Regions from separate parts of the Homo sapiens genome. Here regions 1, 2, 3 and 4 are each linked to region 5. Evidence: fine-mapped expression QTL. A gene starts in region 5. Each other region holds a variant in brackets. All regions are shown on one strand. Distances are from middle to middle.

Region 1 (5,116 bases), 280 kb before region 5:
TTACTGTAACCATGCTAAGAACAAGATGGTGCTTCTGGCTGGGAAAAGGTACTAGCTGCTCACATTAGATGGTCCTTCAGCTTTCCAGGAGCTCGCTCTTTGGGGCCATTGCTATTAAAGCTAGGTTGGAGTCATGGAGCAGAGCATACAGGCATCATCAACCAGTAACCTCTCCAGCTCTGTGGATGAGTGAACAAAAGCTGGTAATGAGATTAGGATGCTTTTTTTTTTTTTTTTTTTTAGATGGAGTCTTGCTCTGTCGCCAGGTTGGAGTGCAATGGCGCAATCTTGGCTCACTGCAACCTGCACCTCCAGGTTCAAGTGATTCTGCTGCCTCAGCCTCCCAAGTAGCTAGGACTACAGATGTGTGCCACCATGCCCAGCTAATTTTTGTATTTTTAGCAGAGACGGGGTTTCACCATGTTGGCCAGGATGGTCTTGATCTCTTGACCTCATGATCCACCCGCCTTGGCCTCCCAAAGTGCTAGGATTATAGGCGTGAGCCACTGTGCCTGGCCAAGATTAGGATGTCTTTTACAAGAGTTTAGGTATAACTGACTGGCTATAGGCTGGCATGAGCCCATAACTAGGCTAGTAAGTGGCAAATAAGAGAACAGCAAAGTTTCCATAATCTGCCCCTTCTTTCTTCCCTTGGCTCTCCCTTCTTACTTCCCCACAGTGACCATGAGGGTGGCAATGTAAGTGCCCATACCAGCCATTTGGTGGGCAGTGCCCTTTCCGACCCTTACCTGTCCTTTGCAGCAGCCATGAACGGGCTGGCAGGGCCTCTCCATGGACTGGCAAATCAGGTAAGACTATTCTTTTTATTTTCCTGCTACATGTTTTCCTTACCCCATGCTTTGTTTCTGATCTTGGCATTCTCTTCTGGCATATGTATTAACATTCCCTTTTTCCCCAAACCTTACCCATAGGAAGTGCTTGTCTGGCTAACACAGCTGCAGAAGGAAGTTGGCAAAGATGTGTCAGATGAGAAGTTACGAGACTACATCTGGAACACACTCAACTCAGGACGGGTAAGCAGAGATGCTTAACGACTAGGAAAGAAACCAAGACACAAGTTCTGCAATTTGGAAGAATTAAGAAAAGAATGAAAGAGGTCCCTAAATTAGAGATTTTTTTTTCTTCATTTATCTACCTTGAAGAATTTAGAAAAGAATTTCTAGGTGGGCACAATGGCATGCACCTGTAGTCCCACCTACTTGGGAGGCTGAGGCAAGAGGATTGCTTGAGGCCAGGAGTTTAAGGCTGCAGTGTGCTAAGATCACTCCTGTGAATAGCCACTACACTCCAGCCAGGACAACACAGCAAGACCCCATTCTCTAAAAAACAGTTTTAAATAGGTTGAGTGTGGTGGCTCACGCTTATAATCTTAGCACTTTGGGAGTCCAGGGTGGATGGATCTCGTGAGCCCAGGAGTTTGAGACCAGCCTGAGCAACACAGACCCTATCTTTTTTTTTTTTTTTTTTTTAAAGACAGTCTTGCTCTTGTTGCCCAGGCTAGAATGCAGTGGCGCAACCTCAGTTCACTGCAACCTCCGCCTCTCGGGTTCAAGTGATTCTCCTGCCTCATCCTCTCGAGTAGCTGGGATTACAGGCATGCGCCACCATGCCCGGCTAATTTTGTATTTTTAGTAGAGACGGGGTTTCTCCGAGTTGGTCAGTTGGTCAGGCTAGTCTAGGACTCCCAACCTCAGGTGATCTGCCCACCTCAGCCTCCCAAAGTGCTGGGATTACAGGCATGAGCCACCGCACACGGCCAGACCCCATCTTTACCAAAAAAAAAAAAAAAAAAGCCAGATGTGTTGGTGTGCACCTGTGGTCCCAGCTACTCTGGAGGCTGAAGTGGGAGAATTGCCTGAGCCTGGGAGGTCGAGGCTGCCGTGAGATGTGATCATGCCACTGCACTCCAGCCTGGGTGACAGAGTGAGATCCTGTCTCGAAAAATAAAAGAATTTCTACTGAGAATACTATCTTTTTTCCTCACTCTTTACAGGTTGTTCCAGGCTATGGCCATGCAGTACTAAGGAAGACTGATCCGCGATATACCTGTCAGCGAGAGTTTGCTCTGAAACACCTGCCTAATGACCCCATGTTTAAGTTGGTTGCTCAGCTGTACAAGATTGTGCCCAATGTCCTCTTAGAGCAGGGTAAAGCCAAGAATCCTTGGCCCAATGTAGATGCTCACAGTGGGGTGCTGCTCCAGGTAAGTCCTCCTTTCCCTCTTTTCCCTCTAATTTGTACCAAACCCTATTGTTATCTGCCATGCACAAAGTCAATTAACTCCTAGTCAGAGCAGGGACTTCCCTCACAGAGCATTTTGATAAAGTTGACTATGAGAGGGTTGGGGGTTGGGGTTGCTCTGTTTTCAGAATCCCAATTGCTATACTTTTCTCAGTGTCATTTCTATTTAAGGTTGACTGGGCTAAGTCCTTGGAGAAAAATGGAAAATTTAGCTTTTAAGGTTTCTATCACCTAGGACTTGTACATGCCACTGCCTCTGCCTTAAATGAAATATTTTTCTCTTCTACCTTACAGTATTATGGCATGACGGAGATGAATTACTACACGGTCCTGTTTGGGGTGTCACGAGCATTGGGTGTACTGGCACAGCTCATCTGGAGCCGAGCCTTAGGCTTCCCTCTAGAAAGGCCCAAGTCCATGAGCACAGAGGGTCTGATGAAGTTTGTGGACTCTAAGTCAGGGTAAAACTGGAGACTGGGTGAAAGTGACTACCAGAAAGTGAGGAAGCCTAAATAAAAAGTATACTTTTGTTTCAGGGGGCCTTTAAAGACTTAAGATTAAATTATATCTGAGGCACTGATAATATGTTTGAGGTTAAAATATAAATTAAGACTTTAAAAGATGAAAAATGGTCCCTTCTTCCCTAATCAGCTCCCTTCCCCTGCCTGGTATGAGTTGCCCATCATACGCATGGTCCTGGAGGATGACCAGGACTAATGCATGTGGTATGAGTAGGTTTGGCCCCCTCACTATCTCTAGAGTGAGAATCTGGCTCCTGTTTCCATGGGTCAAAGCCGGTTGCAGAGAATCTGTAGTCA[C/T]TTTGGAGCTTTAGCTTCTCTGCCAAGCCCTCAATAAGCCAGCAAACCAGGACTCTGCCCCTTCTGTTTCCATAGGAATCATGTTGGATAGTCAGCTGTACCAAGCCCCTTGGCCCTCTCCCATGCACACAAACACCTCCTAGCAAGACCTGTTGGTTAGCTGGACATGCTTTGGCAATTTTTTTATACTACCAAGTGACCATAAAGGCATGGCATTTGTTGTGACTGGCACCCAATGTTTGATTTTTTTTTTAAAACTATCCAATTAAAATTAAGGTCTGGGAGTGTTCTGTTTCCCATTACTTTAATACTCACCTCCTCCCAGACTTTCTACACCTGTTGCACCTCAGGCAGAGGATGTTCTGGACCTCCCCCTCTTGGTCCCTACTAGAGACCTCTCAACAGATCTGTGGGCCCAGTCATTGGGTTTTATCAGTGCTTAATGTGAACTAAGTTTTTTACTTCCACAGAATACAAGCCACTACCTTCTGACCTCCCCACCCCCCACCAACCCCCATCTTTTAATATGCTGTGGGGCATAGAACTCCGGAATGACCAGCATGATATTTTCAGAGTCTTGTCCCCGGGGTATTAGCACCTCTTTTTGAACAGGGAATTGATTCAAGATTGGACATGGTCTCCTCTGATTATCAGGTACTGGGGCTGAGGGCATTAAAAATAGTAAGCCTCCCTCCTCGTCCCCTGCCTCAAGAAATTGCCTCCTTATTTATCAACATCTTTTTCCTCCCTTTCCCTGAGAGCTCACAGTACAATGTTTCAGAAGCCCCATTTGCACAGGTTTTCAGCAACTCAGAATGCTCTACTTCTTTTTCTTTGAGAAAGGATTAAGATACACTCCTGCTGTGCCCCCATCTTTCCTCCAAACTCCTGCCTGTGTTTGTGTGGATACCCAGTCCCAGAACCACACTGTTGAGTTGGACACACTGTAAACCCCTGGGTAACTGTCAAGTCATGATGGAGACTTCAGGTTGTTCTGTATAAAATGCAAAATAAATGTTTTTATTAACAATGCTTGAGCCTATTATTAAATAAGGCCTGGAAGAACCTTTATTATGAGGTAAGGAATCTGGCTAGCAAGATCCTGAACTTAGTGGGTTATAAGTAATCTGTATCCATTTATCTTTAGGCAGGTTTGGCTTTCTTTTACCTTAACCAGAGGAAAGCCTCCCTGAGAAATTTCCAGAGGAGATTTCTGTCCTTCCTCAAGGTTAGGAAGTCCTTGATGTTTAGCCCCTAACCTTGCTAATTTTGTTGTAAGGTAACATACTCAAGGGCTATAGCTGAGATTCTCAATTGCTTATGTGACTAATCCAAGAACTGGTCTAGCCCACTGAGAGAAAGGAACAAACTACCAAGGACGAATGGGCTAGTACTGCTACCTCAGGACCAGAGCCACTAGAGGGCTCTGGTACTTCTTGGAGTGCCTGCTCTTTATAGCTTCCCTGAAGGAGGTCCCAAAAATAACAAGAGGTGGTCCTGAGGGCATCACATATATGGGAGGTCCAAGACCAGATGATTCTGTCCTGAGATCCCTGCTGCAACTGACCTTCTGAAAAAGTCTATAAATAGACAAGGGGGTGGGTACTAGGTCCTGGCTTGTAGAATGTGCTACTATAGTTAGCAGGGACACTGTGTCCAAGAGGCCTTCTTATACCTTCACTCCCCCAGGAAAAGAAGCCATAACTTCGTTCTACTCTACTATATCTACATTATTGCCCCAAGAAACAATATAATAAAGCCAAATTCACACTGTCACAATTTATTGAAATTTTATAAAAACTCAGGCCAAGTGGAAGAATAAGGTACAACTCAAGAGTACAAAGACAACTCCGTTTCCGTTCAGTACTTTTCTCCTCAGCACTGGTGGTAAGAAAGCCCCTTGCTCTCTAGTAGCCAGGCAGCATGGACTTACAGTCTTAAAATGAGGCTTTATGTATTTCAGGCTGGAGGCAGGTTGCCTTTTCTCCTGAGGAATCTCAGGCAGGGTAAAAGTTACTTACCACTCAGTACCTCTG
Region 2 (5,119 bases), 230 kb before region 5:
TACCCCATTAGGCTGGGGTCAGGCAGCCTCAACCCCTCTAACCCTTCTAAAAGATTAAAAAAGAACATCCCCGGAGGCCTCCAACTTCAGGATCAGAATTTGGGGGTCTCTGGACAGGCTGCTTTGGGGCTGGAAGGCCCCCTGCCGGGATGCTCTTTTAGTCTCAAGCCGCGAAGTGGCGGAGCCGACGTAGACAGGGGTAGGGAACCCGGTGCACAGCCAGGGAGTAGAATCTTACTGGCCAGATCTTCCGGAACCCTCATCCCGACAAGCCGGGACTCGGTCCATCCCCTCCCCTACCCGCAGCCCACCACCCACCCAAGCCAGCCGGCAGGACTGTGCACGCCGCTGAGCAGCCCGCAGGGGGAGCCACAGGCTCCGCTGCCGCCGGATGCTGCCCCGTGGAACGCGGGAGTGCGGACATTCCCGGAAGTTTCCCCCGGCTGGCCTCCTCCGGCCAATCAGCACCGCCCGGGCGCGCCCTGCGTCCCGCCGCCTGCCCTGCCCAGCCAATCGGGATCAGAGACTCGTGCGCCGCGAAGGGGGCGAATTTCAGGTATTAAAGGAACCTTGGAGATAGTTGGCTCTGTAGGGGGAAAAATCCACCACTAGAAGGCGCACAGGGCCCCCAGTTTTCCTTAACTTGGCTAGGGAGAATGCACTTAGGTTCTAAGACGTTTCTTTCCAAAGAGTGACACAATGGGAAAAGGAGCAAGGGCTTCGGAATCTGGCGGACAAAAGTTTGAATCCTGGCTCAATGCTTCACTTCATTTCTCGACTATTTAAACATATGTAATTCCAATTCCGCAAGGCGCGGTGGCTCACGCCTGTAATCCCAGCACGTAGGGAGGCATAGGCTGGAGGATAGCATGAGTCCAGGAGTTCCAGACCTGCCTGGGCAATATAACGAGACCCCATTCTCCACAAAAAGGGAAAAAAAGACAAAAAATATGTAATTCCATCTTACGAGAAAACGGAAGTTATATTTAAAAAAGTGCCTTGCACACAGTAGGCACACACGGTTTCCTCCCTTTTTATTGCTCTAACCGTTATCTTTGTTCCTGATTTGGGGTTCTCATCTTTAATGCACTACCCAGCTTGGTCAAGGTCTCTGGGAAAAGTGGCATTTACACCAGAGACAAAAGGCAGGCTCACCCTTCTTGGAAGAAATGGAACCTGCGACAAAGAGAGAAACATTGTTAGTCCCTTTTTTTTTTTTTTTTGAAACAGGGTCTCGCTGTGTAACCCAGGCTGGAGTGTAGTGGTGCAATCTTGGCTTACTGCAACCTCCCACCACAGCCTCCGTAGTAGCTGGTACTACAGGTTCGCACTACCACCCTCGGCTAATTTCTGTATTTTTTTTGTAGAGACAGTTTCGCCATGTTTCCCAGGCTGGTCTCGGACTCATGACCTCAAGGGATCCGCCCACCTCGTCCTCCCAAAGTGCTAGGATTACAGGCGTGAGCCGCTGCACCTGGCCATACTACTCTTCCCCGCCCCGCCCCACCGCTCCACCCCGGCAAAGGAGTCTTGCTCTGTCGCCCAGGTTGGAGTGCAGTGGCGCGATCTCGGCTCACTGCAATGCAACCTCTGCCTCCCGGGTTCAAGCGATTCTCCTGTCTCAGCCTCCCGAGTAGCTGGGATTACAGGCGCCCGCCACCACGCCCGGCTACTTTTTTTGTATTTTTAGTAGAGACGGGGTTTCACCACGTTGGCCAGCCTGGGCTCAAACTCCTGACCTCGTGATCCACCAGCCTCGGTCTCCCAAAGTGTTGGGATTAAAGGCATGAACCACCGCGCCCGGCCATACTACTCTTATCTTACTTATCTCAGAGTCCCGCTAGAAGACAGCAGAAAGGAGGCCTGAAACTTTAGTTCCTTTTGGGACCTGTCAAATTGTCCACAAAAGGTAGCTAGCTCTGTATTGTTGTGTATAAACAAATTACATAAAGATATGTGTGTATGTGTGTATTAATGTGCATTAGCATTTGCTTAGCCAATGTCCACAATAAATACCATACTATTTAATACCAGATTAGTCTAGGAAGTCATGTGATTGTAATGCCTTGGTTTGCTTAATTAATCCCTTATCTGCTCACGGAGCTCTTTAGGCTCCACATTGACTTCCCTTGGATCCCACGTTCTCTACCGCCCACATCCCCAACACCACGGTGTT[G/C]TAAGCTAAGGAAATCAAACCCCAACTCAGGAAGAGGGAAATTTTTTCTCCCTTCCTTCCTCTTAGGTGTTTCAGGGAACTCCACAAGTGTTCGGGGAGCCATCGTGGATACGGCAGGAGAGCGCCTGGGAGAGAGGCAGACAACCCGTTGAGCACCCCAGATCTAAGCTTTGCGGTCAGACTCCCTCACTCCCCACCCCGCGGCCGCCTTGTTAACTGCAATATCCATTCCCATGACAGGAGTCAAGGGGTTACGAAGCTCTGGGATGCTGACCAGGGCTCTGGAAAAGGGAGAGGGGCCGGACCCGCAGCAGGTCACGCTGCAGGCCTGCCTCTCCGCAATGATCTCGCAACAATCTGCGTCAGCTCTAAGACACAAGTCACCTGCACCCCTCCAAAGCGAAGCGTGGCCGGCCAGGCCCACACGTTTTTGCCGGGAAGAACATAGAGTTCTCCCTCCTAAATGGCTACATAGTCCTGGCTGGGACCATATAGACTCTAGACTAGACTTCCTGTCTAGAGTGGAGGCCTGGCCAGCCTTCGTCCCTCCTCGTAGGCAGCTCCTGGCTGCTGGTGTAGGGGCTGAGTTAAACAAAGAGGCGGGGTTTGGTGACGAGCTTCCGCCGGGTTGCGTAGCAGCGGTGGGCGGGGCAAAGGATCCGTCTGAGGCGGCGACGAGTGGTAGGAGTCTTCTTTCCCCTCCTTCCCCTTTCCCTTCCCTTCCCGGGAGAGGCTGGGACCCGGCACCAGGGCAGTACTGTGGCCGCTGCGGCCTCAGCTCCGACTGGGTCAGGTTGCGGAGACTCCAGGCCGCTTCCAGGGCGGTGCGTACTGCGCCTGCGCGATCTTCCACCTAAAAGAGGGTGTGGGAGGGGAGGAGGTGATGTCCCAGGGGTATTGGGGCGGGGGGTTGAAATAACTGGGGTTCAGGAGGAGGGATGGTGGTAGAGATAAAAATGTGAGAAGGGAGCAGCACTGGCGAGGAGTCGGGAGGTGAGAAGGGGGCTCTGGAGAACGGGTTGTTGGGGAAGGTCCATTGGAATAGGGGAGCTTTGAGAAGTGCGGGAGGGGGCCGGGGCTAGCTGGAGGACCGGCACCTGCAGAACTGGGGGAACAGCGTGGTGTTTAAATGGGCAATGATTGACGGGCCAGAAGGGGAGGAAGGGAGCATTCCGGGGGCCAGCCTGGGCAGGGGCGGTGGAACCTAAACCCCCGCCCTCGAAGCGCCATAGCTTGGCTCCTCTCCCATGCCTTGTCGTTGGCAGCCTTGTCCTCTCATTCCTTCCCCGCTCCTCACCCCCTCCCAGCCCTCCATGAAGGAATCTCACATTCTTCACATCCCTGCGCTTGGTTTGCAGCCTGGCTCTCTGGCAGGGTTCACACACCACACACTGGAAGGCCTTCCCTAACTCAGGACTTTGGGAAATTGGGTAGTGGGGAGGAGGGGGCTAGAGGAAGAGCAGAAAGCCAGGAGGGGTGAAGGCGTTTTGCTTGAGGGATTGACAGACTGCTTCCCCGTTCAGAAACTTCATTTCATTTAATAGCAAGTGGGGCTGTTATTGAGGCCACTGTTCTTGGGGACTGGCCCGTGATAGTGTTATCCCTTTCTATACAGGGGTTTTAGAGTCTGACAATAGGGCAAGAGACTGATAGTGTTGTTGGCTGATAGTTTTGCCCCAAATAAGAATGTAGTGGACTAGTGGTAGGGAATGTGAGTGATGCAATGTTAAGCCGACCGACCTGTGGCTAGCCCTGCCTTCTAGTAAAAAGAAGGAACAAGCTTTTGTCAAGCATTTCCTCTCCGACTCTCAGTACTCTAAATTTATTTTGCATTCTTGTTTTTTTTTTTTTTTGAAACGGAGTCTCACTCTGTCACCCACGCTGGAGTGCAGTGGCACAATCTCGGCTCAGTGCCACCTCTTTCTGGGTTCAAGCGATTCTCCTGCCTCAGCCTCTTGAATAGCTGGGATTACAGGTACCTGCCACCATGCCTGGCTAATTTTTTGTATTTTTAGTTGAGATGGGGTTTCACCATGTTGGCCAGGCTGGTCTCAAACCTCTGACTGTAGCCGGGCGCGGTGGCTCACGCCTGTAATCCTAGCACTTTGGGAGGACGAGGCGGGCGGATTGCCTGAGCTCAAAAGTTCGAGACCAGCCTGGGCAACACAGTGAAACCCCGTCTCTACTAAAAATATAAAAAATTAGCCGGGGCATGGCTGCATGCACCTGTAGTCCCAGCTACTTGGGAAGCTGAGGCAGGAGAATTGCTTGAACCCAGGAGGCAGAGGTTGCAGTGAGCTGAGATTCCACCACTGAACTCCAACCTGGGCAACAGAGTGAGACTCTGTCTCCCCACACCCCCCGCCAAAAAAAACAAAACAAAACCCTGACCTCAGGTGATTGGTCCATCTCGGCTTCCCAAAGTGCTAGGATTACAGGCATGAGCCACTGCACCCAGCCTTATTTTGTATTCTGTTGCTACAAATAATCTTACTTGAGGATAACAGTATTCAGTATCCTTTCATATTTATTTATTTATTTATTTATTTATTTATTTATTTATTTTTGAGACAGGGTCTCACTCTGTCACCCAGGCCGGAGTGCGGTGCTGCGATCTCTGCTCACTGCAACCTCTGCCTCCTCGGCTCAGTTGACCTTCCCCCTTCAGCCTCCTCAGTAGCCGGGACTACAGGCACTCACGCCATCATGCCCGGCTAATTTTTGTATTTTTTGTAGAGACAAGGTTTCACTATGTTGCCCAGGCTGGTCTCAAACTCTTGGACTCAGGTGATCCACTCACTTCGGCCTCCCAAAGTGCTGGGATTACGGGTGTGAGCCACTGCGTCCAGCCTCCTTTCGTATTTATTATTTCATTTGATTTGCAGACAGTATGTATAAGGGGTGCGCGCGTGTATATACACATATATACACACACACACATAT
Region 3 (5,129 bases), 400 kb before region 5:
TGATCTCGGCTCACTGCAGCCTCCGCCTCCTGGGTTCAAGCGATTCTCCTGCCTCAGTCTCCCGAGTAGCTGGGATTACAGGCAGGTGCCACCACGCCTGGCTAATTTTTTGTATTTTTAGTAGAGGTGGGGTTTCTCCACGTTGGCCAGGCTGGTCTCAAACTCCTGGCTTCAGATGATCCACCCACCTCAGCCTCCCAAAGTGCTGGGATTACATATGTGAGCCACCGCACCTGGCCTATCCTTTTACATTCAACTTACCTATGTCATTATATTTACATGTACATGTACATATACATGTTGTTTTTTATTTTTCTACCAGTCTTTTAATTGGTATGCCTAGATCATTTACATTTAATGTAATTTTTGATATATTAGGGCTAAGTCTGCCATTTTATGTTTCTTTTTGTTTGTTTCAGCTCTCATTTTCATTACTCTTTGACCTTTTTCCCCTTCCTGTGGATTACTTGAACATTTCTTTAAATTCCTTTTTGATTTATCTGTTATAAATTTTTATTTATTATGAATGTTTTTAGTGGTTGGTCTAGATATTGCATTATACATATGAAACCTATCACAATTACTGGTGTCAACATTTTATCAGTTTGAGTAAAGTATAGAAATCTTACCTCCATTTAGGTCCCTTAACATTCCCTCCCCCTTGTATACTATAATTATCTTAAATATTTCCTATCTATATATTGAGAACCATATCAGATAATATAATTTTTACTTCAGCCATCCAATATAATTTAGAAAACTCAAGATGAGAAGATTGACCTATTGTCATGTATTTATATTTTTATACTTCCTCTTCTTTCTTCATAATTTTTGTTTTGTTTGGTTTTTTGGTTTTTTTTTTTTTTGAGATGGAGTCTCACTCTGTTGCCCAGTGTTGGAGTGCAGTGATGTGATCTTGGTTCACTGCAACCTCTGCCTCCCAGGTTCAAGTGATTCTCCTGCCTCAGCCTCTCGAGTAGCTAAGACTACAGGCGTGCGGTACCATGCCTGGCTAATTTTTGTATTTTCAGTAGAGATGGTGTTTCGCCATGTTGGCCATGCTGGTCTTGAACTCCTGACCTCAAGTGATCTGCCTATCTCAGCCTCCCAAATTTTCTTCACAATGTTTTAAGCTTTGTTTCTTTCTTTTTTTTTTAAGAGTAGGTCTGGTGGAAGCAAATTATCTTAGTTTCCCTTATCTGAGAAGCTCTTGATTTCACCTTCATTCCTGAAGGATATTTTTGCTGGGTATGGGATTTAAAGTTGACGTTTGTCTGTTTGTTTGTTTGTTTGTTTGTTTGAGTACTTGGAAAATGTGCCATTCCCTGCTGGTCTCTATGGCTTCTTATAAGAAATCTACTGTCAATGGAATAATTGTTCCTTTATAGGTACTATGTTGTTTCTATTTGCTTCCAAGACTTTTTTCTTTGTATTTATTTTAGGAAGTTTGCTTATGATGTGTCTTGCAATAGATTTCTTTGAATTTATTCTACTTAGGGTTCACTCCATTTCTTGAATCTGTATGTTCATGTGCTCTAAATTTCCTTCTAAGCACAGCTTTAGCAACATCTTACAAATTTTGACATGTTCTGTTTTTATTTTCATTCAGCTCAAAGTACTTTTTGAATTTTCTTTTTACTCTTTGAAATGAAAATTACTTAAATGTGTGTTATTTAGTTTCCAAATACTAGGCTATCATCCAGATATCAGTAATTAGTTTCTAATTTAATTCCACTGTGCTCAAGGAACATACTTTGTATGACTTGAATCCTTTTAAATTTATTGGTACATTGTTTTGGATTTTTTTTTTTTTTTTTTTTTTTTGAAACAGAGTCTTGCTCTGTCACCCAGGCTGGAGTGCAGTGGCATGATATCAGCTCACTGCAACCTCTGCCTCCCGGTTTTAAGCAATTCTCATGCCTCAGCTTCCCAAGTAGATGGGACTACAGGTGTGCACCACTACACCTGGCTAATTTTTGTATTTTTAGTAGAGATAGGGTTTTGCCATGTTGGGCAGGCTGGTGTCAAACTCCTGACCTCAAGTGATCTACCTGTCTCAGCCTCCCAAAGTACTGGGATTAGACATGAGCCACAGTGCCCAGCCTGCTTCTTGTGTTTTGAAGCTCTGTTATCATATGTATAAATGCTTAGAATTGTTAGGTCATCTTAATAAATTGGCCCCTTTTTCACTGTCAAATGACATTATTTATCCCTATAATATTCTTTCCTCTGAAGTCTACTTTTCTTTTTTTCTTTTTTTTTTTGAGATGGAGTCTCGCTCTGTCAACCAGCCTGGAGTGCAGTGACGTGATCTTGGCTCACTGCAACCTCCACCTCCCGGGTTCAAGCGATTCTCCTGCCTCAGCCTTCTGAGTAGCTGGGACTACAGGTGCGCGCCACCACACCCAGCTAATTTTTATATTTTTAGTAGAGATGGAGTTTCACCATGTTGGTCAGGCTGATCTCGAGCTCCTGACCTCGTGACCTGCCCACCTTGGCCTCCCAAAGTGCTGGAATTACAGGCGTGAGCCACCACTGCCGGCCTACTTTTCTTTCTTAAAAAAAAAAAAATCTGTTTTTATAGTGACAGTGTCTCACTATGTTGCCCAAGATGGTCTCAAACTTAGCTCACACATTCCTCCTGCCTCGGCCTCCCAAAGTGCTGGGATTACAGGCGTGAGCCACCATTTCCAGCCCTGAAGTCTGCTTTTGTGATATTAACATAGCCACTCCAGCTTTCTCTAGGTTAGTGTTAGCATGGTATAGTTTTAAAAATCCTTTTACTTATAATTTATTTGTTTCTTTTAAAGTGGGTTTCTTGTAGAAAGCACATAGCTGGACTTTTTTCTTTTATCCAATCTGACAATCTTTGCCTTTTAATTTTGTTGTTTAGACCATTTATATTTAATATCATTATTGACATTGTCAGGTTTAAATATTACATTTTGCTACTTGTTTTCTATTTGTCTCATCTGTTCCTTGTTCTCCTTTCCTCTCTTTCTTCTTTGGGTTTTTTTTTTTTTTTTTTTTTTTCTGAGACAGAGTCTTGCTCTGTCGCCCAGGCTGGAGTGCAGTGGCATGATCTTGGCTCACTGCAACCTCTGCCTCCTGGGTTCACACCATTCTCCTGCCTCAGCCTCCCGAGTAGCTGGGACTACAGGTGCCCACCACCACACCCAGCTAATTTTTTATATTTTT[A/G]GTAGAGACGGGGTTTCACTGTGTTAGCCAGGATGGTCTTGATCTTCTGACCTTATGATCTGCCCACCTCGGCCTCCCAAAGTGCTGGGATTGTAGGCATGAACCACTGCACCCAGCTCTTCTTTGGGTTTAACTCAGTATTTTTTTATAATTCTATCTTCTGTTTTTGTTTTGTTTTGTTTTGTTTTTCCCTTTCTGTAACAGGGTCTTGCTCTGTCACCCAGTGTGGAGTGCATTTTGCAATTATGACTCACTGCAGTCTCAAACTCCTGGGCTCAAGCAATCTTCCCACCTTGGCCTCCCAAGTAGCTGGGACTACAGGTATGTGCCGCTACATCTGGCTTTTTTTTTTTTTTTTTAGACATGGTCTTGCTCTATCACCCAGGCTGGAGTGCAGTGGTGCAATCATGGCTCACTGCAGTCTCCACCTCCCACATCCAAGTGATCCTCCCACCTTCAAGTAGCTGAGACCACAGGTTTGTGCCATCACACCTGGCTAATTTTTTATTTTTTATAGAGATGGAGGCTCCGTATGTTGCCCAGGCTGGTCTTGAACTTCTGGGCTCACATAATCCTTCTGCCTCAGCTTCTCAAAGTCCTGAGATTACAGATGTGAGCCACTGCACCCAGCCCCTGAATAACATTTTTTATTTTTTGTAGAGATGGCATCTCGCTATGTTGCTCAGGCTAATCTCAAACTCCTGGCTTCAAGTGATCCTCCTGCCTCAGCCTCAAAAGTGCTGAGATTACAGATATAAGCCACTGTGCCACACCTGCTTTGTTATTTTAGTGTTGCTTTAGGGTTTATAGTAATCATCTCTAATTTATTACAGACTACCTTCAGGTGCTATTTACAGTGTAAGAAACCATAGTATACTTCCATTTTCTCCCTCCCAGCCTTTGTGCTATTGTTACATTTTACACTTACATATGTTATAAACTACATTATTTTTGCCTTAAATAGTCAATAGTCAATTATCTCTTTTAAAAATGTATATTTAAGGGGCCGGGCACGGTGGCTCATGCCTATAATCCCAGCACTTTGGGAGGCCGAGGCAGGCGGATCACCTGAGGTCAGGAGTTTGAGACCATCCTGGCCAACATGGTGAAACCTTGTCTCTACTAAAAATATTTTAAAAATTAGCCAGACGTAATGGTGGGCGCCTGTAATCCCAGCTACTCGGGAGGCTGAGGCAGAATTGCTTGAACCCAGGAGACGGAGGTTGCAGTGAGCCGATACTGTGCCACTGCACTCCAGCCTGAGCTACAGAGTGAGACTCCATCTCAAAAGAAAACACACACACACACACACACACACACACACACACATAAACAAAAATGTATATTTACCTATTTACTATTTCCTATGGTCTTCATTTCTTTATGTACATCCAGATTTTCAATGGAAGTCATTTTCCTCTGTCTACAGACTTTTATTAACATTTCTTAAGCCAGGCGCGGTGGCTGATGCCTGTAATCCCAGCACTTTGGGAGGCCGAGGCGGGCGGATCACCTGAGGTCAGGAGTTTGAGACCATCCTGGCCAACATGGTGAAACCTTGTCTCTACTAAAAATATTTTAAAAATTAGCCAGACGTAATGGTGGGCGCCTGTAATCCCAGCTACTCGGGAGGCTGAGGCAGAATTGCTTGAACCCAGGAGACGGAGGTTGCAGTGAGCCGATACTGTGCCACTGCACTCCAGCCTGAGCTACAGAGTGAGACTCCATCTCAAAAGAAAACACACACACACACACACAAATAAACAAAAATGTATATTTACCTATTTACTATTTCCTATGGTCTTCATTTCTTTATGTACATCCAGATTTTCAATGGAAGTCATTTTCCTCTGTCTACAGACTTTTATTAACATTTCTTAGGCCAGGTGCAGTGGCTCATGCCTGTAATCCCAGCACTTTGGGAGGCCAAG
Region 4 (5,129 bases), 320 kb after region 5:
GCCCAGGCTGGAGTGCAGTTGTTTGATCTTGGCTCATTGCAACCTCCACCTCCCAGGTTCAAGTGATTCTCCTGCCTCAGCCTCCTGAGTAGCTGGGATTACAAGCATGCACCACCATGCCCGGCTAATTTTTGTATTTTTAGTAGAGACGGTGTTTCACCATATTGACCAGGCTGGTCTCAAACTCCTGACCTCGGGTGATCCGCCTACCTTGGCCTCCCAAATAGTTTGCATTTTCTGGAATTTTGTGTAAATGGAATCCTATAATGTATGGGATTTCAGCATCTGGCTTATTTCATTCAGCATGTTTATTTGGAGAGTCATCCATGTTGTACATGCATCCGCAGTTCATTTCCATTTCTGAGTAGTATTCCATTGTATGGATATACCACATATATTTTTATCCATTCACTTGTTGATAAACGTTTGGGTTGTTTCCAATTTCTGACTGTTAGAAATAAAGCTACTATGAACTGTTTGTGTACATGGGTTTGTGTGGACGTATGCTTTTATTTCTCTTGGGTGAATACCTGGGTGTGTATTTTGATGTTCAAATTGCCCTAGATTTGGCTGGGGGAGCACCTGCAAGCTGGCTCCTGTCTCCTTTTGACACAACTCCATCACTCTTTGAGCATTTTCTTACTTTCTGCTACAAGAAGATGTTCCAGGCTCATCTTGTATTTCCCCTGCTCCAGCCCCGAACTTAGTTATTTCTCAAAGAAGCACTGGTCTTTTGTGAGGAGGATGGTATTTAAAAACCAAGATCTGAATGCTGGATGTGATTATCACTGGGGAGTAATTGCTCCTGGGCCTGCTCCATGGACACAGAAAGAGGCAAAGTAGTATTATCCTGTGCTTTTTATTTGCTCTTTTCTTTTTCTTTTCCTTTTTTTTTTTTTTTTTTCCTGAGACAGAGTCTCACTCTGTCGCCCAGGCTGAAGTGCAGTGGCACTATCTCGGCTTGCTGCAACCTCCGACTCCCGGATTCAAGCGATTCTCCCTCCTCAGCCTCCCGAGTAGCTGGGATTACAGGCGCATGCCACCACACTTGGCTAATTTTTGTATTTTTAGTAGAGACAGGGTTTTACCATGTTGGCCAGGCTGGTCTCGAACTCCTGACCTCAGGTGATCCACCAGCCTCGGCCTCCCAAAGTGCTGGGATTACAGGTATGAGCTGCCGTGCCCGGCTTACTTACTCTTTTCTGCGTGAGGTTGAATTTTTGTTTCTTATAATTAAGAGCCTCTGTATTTCCTTTTCTAGAAATTTTCATTTTATTTTTTATTTTTGAGATAGCCTTGCTCTGTCACTCAGGCTGGAGTGTAGTGTGCGATCACAGCTCACTGCAGCCTCAACCTCTCAGGCTCAAGCAATCCTCCCACCTTAGCCTCCTGAGTAGTGGTCACCACAGGTATATGCCAACATGCCCAGCTAATTTTTCTTTTTTTTGAGACGGAGTCTTGCTCTGTCACCCAGGCTGGAGTGCAGTGGCATGATCTCTGCTCACTGCAAGCTCTGCCTCCCGGGTTCATGCCATTCTCCTGTCTCAGCCTCCCGAGTAGCTGGAACTACAGGCGCCCGCCACCACGCCCGGCTAATTTTTTTTTGTATTTTTAGTAGAGATGGGTTTTCACCGAGTTAGTGAGGATGGTCTCGATCTCCTGACCTCGTGATCCACCCTCCTCGGCCTCTGAAAGTGCTGGGATTGCAGGCGTGAGCCACCATGCCTGGCCAGACACACATATATATTTTTTTAAATTTTCTTTTTTTAATTACACTTTAAGTTCTAGGGTACATGTGCACAACGTGCAGGTTTGTTACATATGTATACATGTACCATGTTGGTGTGCTGCACCCATTAGCTGGTCATTTACATTAGGTATATCTCCTAATGCTATCCTTCCCCCCACCCCACCCCACGACAGGCCCCAATGTGTGGTGTTCCCCACCCTGCAGATACACAGATTTTCAATTGTGAGGGGTATCAGTCCCCTAGGTCCTGAGTTGTTCAAGGGTCAACTGTACAGCCATGTGCTGCATAACACATTTAGCTCAATGACAGAGCACATATATGATGGAGGTACCATAAGATTATTATG[T/C]AGCTGAAAAATCCCTGTCCTGTAGTGATGTCTTGATGATCCTGACCTTGTGTAGACCTAGGCTAATGTGTGTCTTTGTGTCTTAGCTTTTAACAAAAAAGTTAAAAAAATTTAAAAAATAGAAAAAGCTTATAGAATAAGGATATAAAGAAATAAAATATTTTTGTACAGCTGTAGAATATTTATGTTTTAAGCTAAGTGTTATTACAAGAGTCAAAGTTAAAAAAATTAAAAAGTTTATAAAGTAAAAAAGTTGCAGTAAGCTAAGGCTAGTTTATTATTGAAGAAAAGAAAAAAAAAATGTAAATAAATTTAGTGTAGTCACTCACTGACTCACCCAGAGCAACTTCTTGTCCTGCAAAGTCCATTCATGATATGTGCCCTATATAGGTATGCCGTTTTTAAATCTTTTATACTGTATTTTTTACCACACCTTTTCCACGTTTAGATACATAAATACTTAACATGGTGTTACAATTGCCTATAGTATTGAGTACAGTAACATGCTGTACAGGCTTGCAGCCTAGGAGCAATAGGTTACGCCATATAGCCTAGCTGTATAGTAGGCTACACCATCCAAGCTTGTGTAAGGACACTCTATGATGATGTTCCCGTAATGGTAAAATCACCTAACGATGCATTTCTCGGAACTTATTCCTGTTGTTAAGCAACATATGACTTAACATGTGACTGTATATTCAGAGTTGTGCAACCAGCCACCACAATCAATTTTAGAACATTTTCGTTACCCCAAAAGAAACTTGTGCTTTTACCACTTACTCCCATTTCCCCCATCCCCATCCCAACCCCAGTACCATCAATTTCCTTTCCGTAGGCAATCACTACTCTACTTATGTCTGTATGGATTTACTTATTCTTGACATTTCATGTAATTGGAATCATACTACATGTGGCCTATGTGACTGGCTTTTCACACAGCATAATGCTTCCAAAGTTTACACATGTTGTAGCATGTATCAATACTTCATTCCTTTTACGTCCAAGTAGCATTGCATTGTACAGATATGCCACATTTTGTTTATTTATTCAACAGTTGATAGACATTTGGGTTGTTTCCACTTTTGGGGTACTATAAACAATGCTGCTATGAATTCTTGTCTTCATTTTATCTTTCTTTCTCCTAAATCATTAATCTCTGCCTTTCCATGGATCTTTCAAAATATGAATATGCTCTAATATATTTCAGGTTAATAATAAACTGACCCTCTTGACACCACATGTCACTTTAGCTAAAACTCCATTTTACAAATCTATGTCAAAGTCTTTTTTTTTTGGCAGGATCTTGCTCTGTTGCCTAGGCTGGAGTGCACCATTCTGACTCACTGCAGCCTCAAACTCCTGGGGTTGTGCTGCCCTTCCTGCTTCAGCCTCTTGAGTAGCTAGGACTATAGGTGCATACCACCATGCCTACTAACTTTTAAAAATTTTTGTAGAGACAGGGTATCTCTCAGGGTTGCCCAGGCTGATCTTGAACTCCTGGCCTCAAGCCATCCTCCTGTCTTGGTCTCCCAAAGTGCTGGGATTACAGGCGTGAGCTACTGTGCCAAGCCCAAGAAATTTTTATTAGTGATGGATTGGAGTGGGAGAAAGAGTGAATGGAAGGTGAGGAAACCAAGATAACACGAGCAGATGACTCAAGAATTATGACTTTGGGCGGGCGTGGTGGCTCGTGCCTGTAATCCAAGTACTTTGGGAGGCCGAGAGGAAATGACTGCTTGAGCCCAGGAGTTTGAGACCAGCTTGGGCAACATAGGCTGTTGTTTTTCTCTACAAAAAATAAAAAAATTAGCCAATTAGCCGGGTGTGGTGGCATGCGCCTGTAGCCCCAGCTACTTAGGAGGCAGAGGCAAGGGGATTGCTTGAGCCTGCAAGTTCAGGGTTACAGTGAACCATGACTGGGTCAGTGTACTCCAGCCTGGGAGACAGAGAGAGACCCTGTCTCTAAAAACAAAACAAAACAAAACAAAGAAACCCGAAACTATTATTATCAAGCCTATTAATTATTTCCACATGCCAGGTCCAGTGAATATTCCCTGTTCTCATCTTATCTGACTTTTCAACAGCTTCAGAAATAGTTGGCTACTATTTCTTCTTGAAAAATTCTCTCATCTAGGCTGTCCTAACATAACAGTCTTCTTGTTTCTATAACATTCCCGTGGCTGTTACTTCTTAGAAACTTCTTTTTTTAGATCTTTCTCATCTACTCGACCTTTAAATTTTGTTTCTTTGGGTTTAGTCTTGGGTCTTTCTCTGTCTAAATTCTCTCATTAAATAACCTCATCTTTTTTTTTTTAATATAGACTTTATTTTTTAGAGCAGTTTTAGCTTCATAGAAAAGTTGAGGAAAGTACAGAGATTTTCCACATACCCTTTGTCCTCACACATGACTAGCCTTCCTCATTATCAGTATCCCCCACCAGAGTGGACATTTATTACAATTGATGAACCTACATTGACACATAATTTTCACCAAATCCCATCCATTTTCATGGTTTAAAATGCCATGTATATGCAAATTATTCACACATTTATATCTTTAGTGCAGATCCTTCCTTTGAGTTTCAAATTTGTATACCCAGTTGTGTACTTGATCCTCCTCCTCAGCATATCTTCTGGACATATAAAACTTAACATGTCCAAAATGACACTTACGGTACTCCCCAAGTCTCTTGTCTTACTCTGCCCATCTTCTTCATCATCTCAGTGAATGGCACCATTAGCTTCTTGATTGCTCAACCAAAAACCTAGGATTTATTCTATTTCTTCTCTGTCTCCTCCTTTTCTTTTCTCATTTCTAACTTTGTATAATGGAGAATTTTGAATATACACAAAAGTTGGCAGAACAGTATAAGATACCCCCATGTATACATCATTCATCCCAACAACTATCAACCCACAGCCAATCCTTCCCCATCCACATCCTTTTCTACTTTCTGCTTCCTTCTCCTGTGTGTCATTTTGAAGCAAATCCCAAACATCATGTCATTTCATCTCCATCTGTATCTCTCTAT
Region 5 (5,000 bases):
TACAGAGTGAGCTGACTGTGCCACTGCACTTCAGCTTGGGCAACAGAGAGCGAGACCCTGTCTCAAAACAAAAACAAAAAAAAGTTATATGAATGTGGTCTCTCTCTCAAAATATACTTTTTTTTGGCCAGTCATGGTGGCTCATGCCTATAATCCCAAAATTTTGGGAGGCCAAGGAAGGAGGATCACTTGACTCCAGGAGTTCAAGACCAGCTTGGGCAACATAGTGAGACTGTGTCTCTAGAAAAAAAAAAACAAATTAACTGGGCATGGTGGTGCCTGTCTGTAGTCTCAGCTACCGGGGTGGTGGGGAGAGGAGTGCTGAGATGAGAGGATGGCTTGAGTCCAGGAGGTCGAGACTGCAATGAATTATGATGGCGCCACCGTACTCCAGCCTGGGCAACAGGGCAAGACCTTGTCTCAAAAAAAAAAAAAGCCTGGGCGATGGAGCAAGTGTCGATCATGGCTCACTGAAGCTTCAACCTCTTGGGCTCAAGCCATCCTCCTGCCTTAGCCTCCCCAGCAGCTGGGACTACAAGTGTGTGTCACCAAGCCTGGCTAATTTTTCTGTAGACATGGGAGTCTATGTTGTCAGGGCTGGTCTTGAACTCCTGGCCTCTTGCTGCCTTAGCCCCCAAAGTGCTGGGATTACAGGCATGAGCCACTGTCCGGCTTCCCCTCCCCTCCCCCTGCCCCTGACAGGGTCTTGCTCTGCCCAGGCTGGAGTGCAGTGGCGTGATCTCAGCTCACTATAGCATCAAACTTCTGGGCTCAAGCCATCCTCCTGCCTCAACCTCCTGAGTAGCGGGGACCACAGGCGTGTGCCACCATGCATGGTCTTTTTTTTTTTTTTTTTGTAGAGATGAGGTCTTACTATGTTGCCCAGGCTGGTCTCAAACTCCTGGGTTCAAGTGATCCTTCAAACTTGGTCTCACAAAGTCCTGGGATTATTACAGGCATGAGCCACCACTCCCAGCCTCAAAATATCTTATTGTACTGTGTTCAACTATTTTCCAAGCGGTTGACCATAGCTAACTGAAACTCAGGAAAAGGAAACTTTGGATAAGGGGAGACTGCTGTAATAACATTGTCTTTGAAGGCTTTTCAGTCCCCAACTCTCCCTCCATTCACCCTAAAAAAAATTGAACCCAGCTGGGAACTGGACCCCAACCTAGGGTCCCGGACCACCTCAATCTTCTCTGTGCCACTGTAGTGAGCTCAGCAAATTGAGGAGTTAATGGCCAGAGTGTCAGGGGCAGGCTGGAGAAGGAAGGTAATTTTTCTGCTCTCTGCCCTGCAAGTTTCTTCCTCAAATTGCTGAACAGAGAGCACTGACCCAGCAGGGCCAAAGTGAGGAGGGGTGACAAATGTCTAAACTGCTGATGAGATGCTGGAGACCAATGTGCTGGGGTGGGTGGGTCGTGGGTAGGGAGGAAAGGAAACCTAGAGATGGGAATAGGAGCAGTCTTCACCTTGCCCCTGGGCCATGGGACCATTACTCTCTCTGCCACCTACCTCAATGCCAGCAGCCTGTTTGTACTAGACCAGAGCAGTGCAGGTAGGGCTGACTCGCAGGTGAACTCAGTGAGCCCAGAATCCCAGGTTTGGGAGGGACAGCCTTTTGCTGTAATACAGAAATGCCACCCGTTGGTGCAGGTGATGACCCCTCACTCCCCATGGGCACGTTAGGTAGGAACATACGTCCGGCATCCAGGCACAAAAGGGTCTTGCGGCAACACCCCGCGATCTCAAGAGCACCCAGACAGAAGGAGTGGAGGCAGGTACTGATAGTTTTGTTGCCCTTGAGGTTCGGAGCACAGCTGGACACCAAGGCCCCCTCCGCTGCCCAGCTCAGCAGCCCTTCCTCCCCAGCTTCTTTACCACCCCCAGTCTCCTTACCGGGTCCAGTGTCTTCAGCACTGCAATTTTACCAGCCCAGCTCTGCGAGTTCTCGAGAAGGGGCGGGGCCAGCGCCGTTATGTCCGGCTGCAGTAAGTGACCTCTCACTCCCCTCAGCTTATCCCTCAGCCATTGGCTGGAAGCGGGTGGCTCAACCATTGGCTGGAACCCGCCTCCTGGAGCCGAGACAGGCAGGTTGCTAAGAAGCCTGGGAGAAGAGGCTGGCTCTTTTTGCTGTCACTCTCGCCAACAGTCCGGAGTCCATTATACCCCTGGTGTGCAAAGAATGGGACCCTTGTGCACCAGGGCTGTATGTCCGGAGCTCGGGCAGTGTGGAAGGTGACAAGGAATCCAAAAGTTGGGCTGACAGGTGGGAGATTTTGAGACACCCCTGCCGCCCCTCCCTGGAGGAGGCCTCGGGATCCAGTCCGGTTTTCCCCGGCTGTGATCTCCACTTTAAACCCAGGGTAGACCTACCTCTATCTACTCTGTTGCAACTACAACTACCCTGTTTATCTTTTAGGGAAAGCAAAGTCAATCGCTTAGTTCTCGTATTCCAGGAATGATAACAGAAATGCCTAAAATAGTGGTTCCAAGAATTTGAGATTCCTTGGGCTAGTCGAATTTCTCCCCAAACAAAAATGAAACAACAACACTGAATAGCCGTCTTTTATTTTGCGTAGAAAAAAAAAATAATAATCGCCCCTTGGTGGCACACGCCTGTAGTCCCAGTACTCGGGAGGCTGAGGCGGGAGGATCGCTTAAGCCCAGGAGTTCGAGGTTGCACTGAGCCAAGATCGCGGCACTGCACTCCAGCCTGGACAACAGAGCAAGACCCCATCTCTTAAAAAACAAACTGCCCCTTAACAAGAGCAATGGCAGCTTAACACCCCGAAGTATGAAGGTTGTAGTCTCTTATCTCAAAGTAAGGGGCATAAATATAATACATTTCCTATTACCCTTTTGTCATTTGATGCAGGACAAAATTTATCAAACCTAGTCCCCCAATCTGGACAAATGTATCCATACACTGCCCTCTAGAGGCCGGACGGTGGAGCTGCAATTTTAATCAGTTTAAGTGAAGGTGTTCACCTTTAATTTTGAAAGATCATTTCCTTTCCTTTCGGCTCTCCAACTAGAGCTTTTACCAGGAATCAGGGAACGGGGGTGGGGGGTATTACCAAGAGATATAAGGTAAGGGAACCGACAGTGAAAAGTTGGCAAGTTGGCTTTGGCTCTTAAGTGTTTGGAAATGGAAAGGATTTCAATCTGTATACAATCAAATCACTGAAGAAGGCTAATGCCCAACCTATCCTACCAGTTGTTAAAAAAAAAATATATATATATATATATATGTATATATATATGGAGAGAGAGAGAGTGAGAGAGAGAGAGAGAGGGAGAAAGAGGGAGAGAGAGAGAAAGCGAGCTTCAACCTAAAAAAAAAAAAGTCTCAGCCAAAGGAAGATACAGAGAAGTCAGTTAGGGACTATCTAAAAGCCTCCTTCCTAATAGTGTCATCTACTTTTGTGTGACACACATACTTTACATAATTGACCTTAATCTTCAGCTTTTACTTTACAGATGAAGAAACGAGGCGGAAGGCACTAACTAACTTGATCAAGGCCACAGCTGGTTAAGTTGACAGAGACAGGCCTAGAATGTCAGATTTGTCTGGCACCAGTCCTCTTTCCTATCCACCTTCAGATTCTTTGGAATTTAAAGCCTACTGCAACCACACATAATCCTATTTCATTTCCCTTCCCTCGACCTTTAGACTGTGGTGGACTGAAGGGTTTGAAGTACACTAGGAGTCAAGAGCAGATCCAGAGGAAATTTTCCCGTTGAGGTGGAAGCTACAAGAAAACTAACTCAGTGATGTTTTTCAACCTTTGGGTCATGGACCCCTTTGAGAAACATATAGAAATGGATCCTAGAAATATGCACATACGGCCGGGCGCAGTGGCTCACGCCCGTAATCCCAGCACTTTGGGAGGCCAAGGTGGGTGGATCACGAGGTCAGGAGTTCAAGACCAGCCTGACCAACATGGTGAAACCCCGTCTCTACTAAAAATACAAAAATTAGCTGGGTGTGTTGGTGCGTGCCTGTAATCCTAGCTACTCAGGAGGCTGAGGCAGGAGAATCACTTGAACTCAGGAGGCGGAGATTGCTGTGAGCCAAGATCGTGCCACTGTACTCCAGGCTAGCGACAGAGACTCCGTCTCAATTAAAAAAAAAAAAAGAAATATGCACATACATTTTTGTATACTACTTCAAATAGCACCCCTCTCTCTAATCTGATCAGTGGGCCCAAAGATCCACAGACCATACCCTACACATATACATTCTGTTAAGAGGGCCTAAAAAGATATAATAGGGTTTGATTTGATGAACAATCTAGTGGCCTTAGAAGAGGGGTGATTAAATAGCAATAGAAGGGCTATTTTCTAAACTAGATGTTTAAGAAAAGATTAAAGGGAATAAAGATGTATCAAGATGCAGGGAAAGGTGTGTTTCTGATTCAGTAGAACATTACTGGGTATCCTTTCTTCCAAATTCCTAGTACCTGACAAATAGCAAAAATAATAATAATAATAACAATAAAATAAAAAAAAGCAACACTCCAATGCCCTTTTCTTTTTTTCCTTTTTTTACTTACATTAAATACATCGGTAAATCAGCAGTCGCATTCTGTTACCACGATTGTTATGTTGGGAGAGGAAGAAAGGCAAATGCTTTCTCAGAAGCAAAACAAAAACAAAAAACCACAACACCCCCCCTTAAAAAAACTGACCAGAAGAAAAAAATGAGCTGGGAAATAAACAAAAGAAAACTAAGATCCCCAAGCCCAACAGAGCTCAAAGGAAGGCAGAAGAGGTGGTAGGAAGTAGAGGGAAGGCAGCCGATAGGCCCAGAAGCTAAGGCCAAATCCTGTTCCTATGGGGGTGGGGGGAGGGAGAAGCCTGGGGAAGTGGTTTCCCAGGCCCAAGATAATGAAACATCTTCACTCCTGCTCCAAGGGGGAAAGCTGCACAGAGAAAGAACTTCATTTCTAGAAGACTTTGGAAAGCCATCCTAGTTCTTCCACTTGTAAAAAGGA

Evidence for each region. PIP is the estimated chance that this variant, and not a neighbour inherited with it, causes the effect.
Region 1: its variant is fine-mapped to the expression of SUOX in whole blood (TOPMed, PIP above 0.99).
Region 2: its variant is fine-mapped to the expression of SUOX in testis (GTEx, PIP above 0.99).
Region 3: its variant is fine-mapped to the expression of SUOX in sigmoid colon (GTEx, PIP 0.95).
Region 4: its variant is fine-mapped to the expression of SUOX in unexposed skin (GTEx, PIP above 0.99).

Annotation. Positions count from the first base shown.
Region 1 is chr12:56,270,695-56,275,810 of GRCh38, reverse strand. COQ10A (coenzyme Q10A) reads right to left here. Exons shown (of 5, transcript NM_144576.4): 5 at 4,845-5,116. CS (citrate synthase) reads left to right here. Exons shown (of 11, transcript NM_004077.3): 8 at 680-809; 9 at 933-1,034; 10 at 2,015-2,224; 11 at 2,557-4,112. The coding sequence ends at 2,727. Among named protein-coding and RNA genes, the nearest start is that of COQ10A, 6.3 kb to the right of the region's middle. RefSeq lists a silencer at 4,352-4,646. The variant C/T (reference allele first, on the strand shown) is at 3,081.
Region 2 is chr12:56,219,641-56,224,759 of GRCh38, reverse strand. RNF41 (ring finger protein 41) reads left to right here and starts at 2,838. Exons shown (of 7, transcript NM_005785.4): 1 at 2,838-3,000. NABP2 (nucleic acid binding protein 2) reads right to left here and starts at 418. Exons shown (of 7, transcript NM_024068.4): 1 at 319-418. RefSeq lists a silencer at 330-569 and enhancers at 1,301-1,595, 1,012-1,945, 2,427-2,646, 1,946-2,880, 2,867-2,916. The variant G/C (reference allele first, on the strand shown) is at 2,177.
Region 3 is chr12:56,390,270-56,395,398 of GRCh38, reverse strand. No RefSeq gene overlaps it. Among named protein-coding and RNA genes, the nearest start is that of APOF, 30 kb to the right of the region's middle. The variant A/G (reference allele first, on the strand shown) is at 3,199.
Region 4 is chr12:55,674,499-55,679,627 of GRCh38, reverse strand. No RefSeq gene overlaps it. Among named protein-coding and RNA genes, the nearest start is that of TMT1B, 4.7 kb to the left of the region's middle. The variant T/C (reference allele first, on the strand shown) is at 2,098.
Region 5 is chr12:55,994,239-55,999,238 of GRCh38, reverse strand. SUOX (sulfite oxidase) reads right to left here and starts at 1,963. Exons shown (of 5, transcript NM_001032386.2): 1 at 1,900-1,963; 2 at 1,516-1,624. It overlaps RAB5B (RAB5B, member RAS oncogene family), which reads right to left. Exons shown (of 6, transcript NM_002868.4): 6 at 2,556-5,000. RefSeq lists a silencer at 1,914-2,103 and an enhancer at 1,689-2,189.